2 linked regions of the Homo sapiens genome follow. The protein of the gene in region 2 interacts with the protein of the main gene of each other region in a pairwise test. Each region holds a gene or a part of one and is shown on either strand. Other genes may lie near its edges.

What was found.
Region 1: the proteins of ARPC3 (region 2) and DUSP29 interact in binary tests that used the Homo sapiens proteins (3 or more experiments, as listed by UniProt).

What each region holds. Positions count from the first base shown.
Region 1 is NC_000010.11:75,039,719-75,042,706, forward strand, and holds part of DUSP29 (dual specificity phosphatase 29), read right to left. Parts: intron 1-2,988. UniProt on the Homo sapiens protein: Dual specificity phosphatase able to dephosphorylate phosphotyrosine, phosphoserine and phosphothreonine residues within the same substrate, with a preference for phosphotyrosine as a substrate. Involved in the modulation of intracellular signaling cascades.
Region 2 is NC_000012.12:110,437,248-110,440,407, forward strand, and holds part of ARPC3 (actin-related protein 2/3 complex subunit 3), read right to left. Parts: intron 3,142-3,160; coding exon 3,065-3,141; intron 1-3,064. UniProt on the Homo sapiens protein: Component of the Arp2/3 complex, a multiprotein complex that mediates actin polymerization upon stimulation by nucleation-promoting factor (NPF).

The DNA.
Region 1 (2,988 bases), on a different chromosome or scaffold from region 2:
ATGCACTATCTGGGAACCTGCCTTTCTTAGTAACTTGCAAAGAAATTCTGGTAGAGCCCTTACTTCTTCCCAAGAGGTTCTAGGTGTGTGGAAGTTCTGAGAAACAAGGTGCAAGGTGTATTATGAACTGCCGGGGCTGGAGGGAGATAGGGCAAGAGACCCTTCCAACAGTGAAAATCGGCTGGGCGTGGTGGCTCATGCCTCTAATCCCAGCACTTTGGGAAGCCGAGGTGGGTGGATCACTTGAGGCCAGGAATTGGAGACCAGACTGGCCAACATGGTGAAACCCTGTCTCTACTAAAAAATACAAAAATTCACCAGGTGTGGTGGTGGGCACCTCCCAGCTACCTGGGAGGCTGAAAGAGGAGAATCGCTTGAATCCGGGAGGTGGAGGTTGCAGTGAGTGGAGATCACGCCACTGCACTCCAGCCTGGGTGACAGAGCGAGATTCCGTCTCAAAAAAACAAAAACAAAAACCAAACAGTGAAAATCTGGTCGGTTAAAGCTTATTAGAAGCACCAGAGAATCAACCTCCTGCTTGAAAGCAGGCTTCATTTATTTATTCATACTTCCCTTATCCATAATATATTTTAAGATGCCTTCAGAAGCAGGCCATGGACTGCCAAAAGGAGAGCGTGATACTAAAGTCTGATCTTTAGCGCCTCGTGGCATTTGCCCTGGAGTTTCTTAGAAGACTTCATTAAATTAAAACCACACTAATTCACCTCGGAGGATGCCGAATCGGGGGCAGTTAAAGCAACCCAAGTGGGGTTCCTGTGACAGTATTTTGTGAGTACTTCTTTTTCTGATGAAGAGTGACAAATTCAGTTTTTTCAGATCCTATAACCAGCTGGCATGACTCGCCCTCCATGATATTCGGTGACCTCTTATACAGCAAAGTCACCAGGTGCTCAAAATAAGGGCAGAGGACTCTTCTGTGAGGCCTCGGTGACAGAAGGAATCCCCGCTGGTAGGCAGGTGTCCTGATGGCGCTGCCTCTGATTAGCTCTGTGACCCTGGGCACCTCACTTGTCTTCTCTGGGCCTCTGTTTGCCCAGCTGTCAGGGCAGGACCAGGGACTGGATTATCTCCGAGATATTTTAAGAGTGACTGAGGTTGCCTGGGGAGTTCTTTATAAAGGGTCAAGTCAGGGTAGTGATGGGATGGGAGAGGGCCCCAGGGGCTGATTACAGCCCACGAGTACAGCTCCACAAGGAACGCTTTTCAAAAAGAGTGAAAATGACCGGCTGTGAGAAGCCAGGTAGGGGGAATGGTGTACACTTGGCTGAAACCAGTCAATGAGAACAAAGAACATAGACAAGAGGAAGCAAGGAGTGATGCCTTGCTTTTTGGCCAGACTGTCTATCCACACCACTTACATAGAGAGTGTAAGAAACATACAAGTAGGTCCAGCACTAAAATGCCAAGCAGTGTCCCTTGCCTAGACACAACTGCATGTGGCAGGTGGGCTGAGCACCTGCCGTCCACTGGGTATGAAGTCTGTGGCATTGCTGCTGCTGAGCTAGCGGGCATTTTGTTTGGTTGCTCTGGCCACTCAGGGCACAGGTTACAACCTGATGGCCATTGGGTTGCTTTAGTCTGTCCTTTGCAGCATTTTAAGAAATTTCAATCTGTTGCCAAGACCTAAAAATCGAGTGATTTTATAATCCAGATTGGAGACTTCTGAAAAGTCAGATCTCCCACATTTGCACTGACTCTCACAAGACAAGCATTAGCTGAGGCTGGGTGGCAGGTGCCCCTCTGAAGGGGTACAGGGCTCTCTGCTTAGCCACAAGTGCCCCCTACCCACACCCCTCCGCTGTACATGCAGCCATCTTCATTTGTTTACACTCTGCATGGTTCTGCAGGGTAGGCGTTTGAGCCCTGACTTGAATTATTTAGATATGCCAGTGCAAAGGTGCTGAGAGCAGAGCCTACCCTGCCATCTCCAGTGGGGTCATGTCCTGCTCCCCATCCCTAGCCATCTGGTCGAGTCCCGGCACCCCCATCCATTCATTCTATCCCACTCATAGTCTCTGATCCAAGTATCTACTCTCCTCCGTTGGCCCTTTGTTTGCTAGGTGCCACCTGGTCTAACAGTCATGATCCACAGCAGCCTGACACCTCCTCATAATGTTCTGTCATCTGCCTAGGCCTAAGCTTCAACTTGAGAGCCTGATTCTTTCTGGATTTGGCAGTGGGGGCAGACCCTAAAATTGAGTGCCAGGAACCTACAACAAGCTTTCATGTGAGTATATCTTACAGTTCAAAGTTGGAATGTCTTTTTTTTTTCTTTGAGGATTGGAAACTTTACGATGATGATGTGCACATGCTGGCGTGGTTATATGCTTCACAGTGTATGACCACGCTTTATCAAATACATCCGAGAGCCTGCTGTCCACCAGGTTCTATGCTAAGCGCTTTACGCGCGTTACTGCTGATCCTCATTATAACCTCTGAAGGTAAATATTTTTATCACCGGATGGAGAAACCAAGGCTCAGAGAAATCACATCGTTAGTAAATTGTGTGACAGAAATGTAAACCCAGCCCTGTCTTCTCCGAAGCCTGCCAGGCCCCTTCCATGAAGGGTAAGGTCTAAAATATAGTAATGGCAAGTGAGTGCATTAAACAGAAACTGAAGGATTAGGTTGTTGCAGTCTTTGTTTTTTTCATGTCAAATGTGTTTTCAGTTAACTTCAAATACTATGAGGCAAATTTTACCTTGTGGTGATGACTCAGTTCAGTTGTGTTTTTGATCCTGCTTGGAAACCCAGAATGTACACAGCACAAAAGATGGTTCATAAATAGACTCATAAAAGGAAGGCCTGGAAATGAGGCATCTTCTAATACAGGCATGTTAGCTCTAAGGGTTTTTTTTCATTGTGACATTGCTTTCTGAGCCAAAATAATGACAAATTGTTGGTGGCTATGGTTGGCTGTGGGGCCAGGGCCACCTTGGGATGTCCATTAAGGTCTGATATTGTCCA
Region 2 (3,160 bases):
AATGCAGTGGTAGGACAGCCACTATCACATCAAAACTCCCATTCTCCAAATGCACAGTCTCCTCAGTCTCCTTTTCCGTCTGCCCCTGGGAGGAAGGCACAAGCCCCACTCTGAGATGTGCAGCTGCTTTTTTTTTTTGAGACGGAGTCTTGCTCTGTTGCCCAGGCTGGAGTGCAGTGGCACAATCTCAGCTCACTGCAACCTCCACCTCCCAGGTTCAAGCAATTCTCCTGCCTCAGCCTCCCGAGTAGCTGGGATTACAGGTGCCCGCCACCACGCCTGGCTAATTTTTCTATTTTTAGTAGAGACGGGGTTTCACCATGTTGGCCAGGTTGGTCTCGAACTCCTGACCTCAAGTGATCTGTCCACCTCAGCCTCCCAAAGTGCTGGGATTACAGGCATGAGCCACCACGCTCGGCTGAGTGGCTGCTCTCTCTTGTTTTTCTCGGCTCCCCTTGCCCCAGGGTTCCCAAGGATCTGTGTCAACAGCCCCTCACTGTATAGGAAGAAGTAACAAAGCTGCCTGGAAAGCCTGAACTGCTCCATATGGTTGGCTAATTTTTAAAAACCCTTCCCTTCAGGGTCTCTGCCGAGAACAGAAATAGTCATTACTCTAAAGGAGGAAGCAACTATTTCACATTTGACTTGCTCCCAAAGAACTCCATAATCTCAATGTCTTGACCTAACCAAAAAGAAAATGTGGAGAAGACAAATGAATGTTGATCAAATGTGGTATGGACTTTGGGTCAAATTTTACACAAATTTAGGCCAGGTGCAGTGGCTTATGCCTGTAATCCCAGCACTTTGGGAGGTTGAGGTGGGTGGATTGCTTGAGCCCAGGAGTTTGAGACCAGCCTGGGCAACATGGCGAAACACCGTCTCTACTAAAAATACAAAAATTAGCCAGTCATGGTGGCGTGCGCCTGTAATCCCAGCTGCTAGGGAGGCTAAGGCCACAGAATCGCTTGAAGCCAGGAGGCAGAGGTTGTAATGAGTCAAGACTGTACCACTGCACTGCAGCCTGGGCAACAGAGCAAGACTCTGTCTCGAATTAAAAAAAAAAAAAAAAAGGCCGGGTGCGGTGGCCCACACCTGTAATCCCAACACTTTGGAAGTCCAAGGTGGGTGTATCACGAGCTCAGGAGATCGAGACCATCCTGGCCAACGTGGTGAAACCCTGTCCCTACCAAAAAATACAAAAATTAGCTTGGCGTGGTGGCGCGTGCCTGTAATCCCAGCTACTTGGGAGGCTGAGGCAGGAGAACCACTTGAACCCGGGAGTCGAGGGTTGCACTGAGCCGAGATCACGCCATTGCACTCCAGCCTGGTGACAGAGCGGGACTCTGTCTCAAAACAAAAAAACAACAAAAAAATTACCCCCAAACCACACCATTTTCCTATATATTTTTTTTTTTTTGAGTGTTTCACTTTTGCTGCCCAGGCTGGAGTGCAATGGCGTGATATTGGCTCACCGCAACCTCTGCCTCCTGGGTTCAAGTGATTCTCCTGCCTCAGCCTCCCAAGTAGCTGGGATTACAGGCACGCACCACCACGCCCAGTTAATTTTGTATTTTTAGTAGAGACGGGGTTTCCCCATGTTGGTCAGGCTGGTCTCAAGCTCCCGACCTCAGGTGATCCGCCCGCCTTGGCCTCCCAAATTACGGGCAGAGGCACTGCGCCCAGCCACATTTCCCTATTTTTAAGACAATATAGTATCTGGGAACAAATGAAATGTGGCAGAGTTTTTTGTTTTTTTTTTGAGACAGTCTTGCTCTGTCGCCCAGGCTGGGTGCAGTGGTGTGATCTCGGCTCACTGCAACCATCACCTCCTGGGTTCAAGCAATTCTTGTGCTTCAGCCTCCCGAGTAGCTGGGATTACAGGCATGCACTACTACACCTGGCTAATTTTTGTATTTTTGGTAGAGATGGGGTTTCGCTTTGTTGGCCAGGCTGGTCTCAAACTCCTGGCATCATGTGATCCACCCGCCTCAGCCTCCCAAGTGTTGGGATTACAGGCGTGAGCCACCATGCACTAATTTTTCTATTTTTTGTAGAGACGGGGGTTCGCCATGTTGCCCAGGCTGGTCTCGAACTCCTGAACTCAAGCAATGTGCCCAGAGAATTGTAACATTTATAACTGTTACAAACTTAACCCACACATGAGATATAGAAAACATTCTATTACCATCACAGAATGTTTAGACTACAATTTGTACACCAAGAGTCTACAAATAAATAATTCACAACCTGTTTGATTCCAGAAGTTCAGAGTTTGGCAAGGAGGGGCTGAAATTCCATTTTAGGGCCGGGAGCGGTGGCTCACGCCTGTAATCCCAGCACACTGAGAGGCTGAGGTGAGCGGATCATGAGGTCAGGAGATCGAGACACCATCCTGCCTAACATTGTGAAACCCCGTCTCTACTAAAAATACAAAAAATTAGCCAGGTGTGGTGGTGCATGCCTGTAGTTCCAGCTACCTGGGAGGCTGAGGCAGGAGGACTGTCTGAGCCCAGGAGGTTGACGGTATAGTGAGCTGTGATTGTGCCACTGCACTCTAGCCTGGGCGACGGAGCAAGACCCTGTCTCAAAACAAAACAAAAGGCTGGCACATAGTAGGTGCTGCTTAACTAATGTTGAATAAATAAAGATACTTCTAGCAAGGGGTTGGCAAACTTTCTCTGTAAAAGGCAGGCAGTATTTTTAGGTTTTGTGGGCCATACAGTCTTTGTCACAACTACTCAATTCTGCTGTTTTGGTGTGAAAGTAACTATAGATAATATAGAAACAAATGGTTGTGGCTGTGTTCCAATAAAGGTTTATTCATAAAAAGGGGCAGTGGGCCAAATGTGGCCCTCAGGTTAGAGTTTGCCAACCCCTGGTATAGAATTTGGAGGAAAAAAAAAGAAACTAATATTTATACAAAAGCTAACATTAAGCACTGCTCTCGAATTTAAAAATTACATGCTGATTTCATTTTATTTTCTCCTCACAGCAATCTGGATAGCAAGGTTGGTATTATCCCTATGAGAAAACTAAGTTAAATATTAAAAGCTCCGTAATTTACCTTAATTTCATAGTTTTTGAAGAAGACATTGGCCTTGAAGTAATAGATGGCTTCATCCACAATATCTGTATCTTTTGCTAAGCAGGACACAAGGGA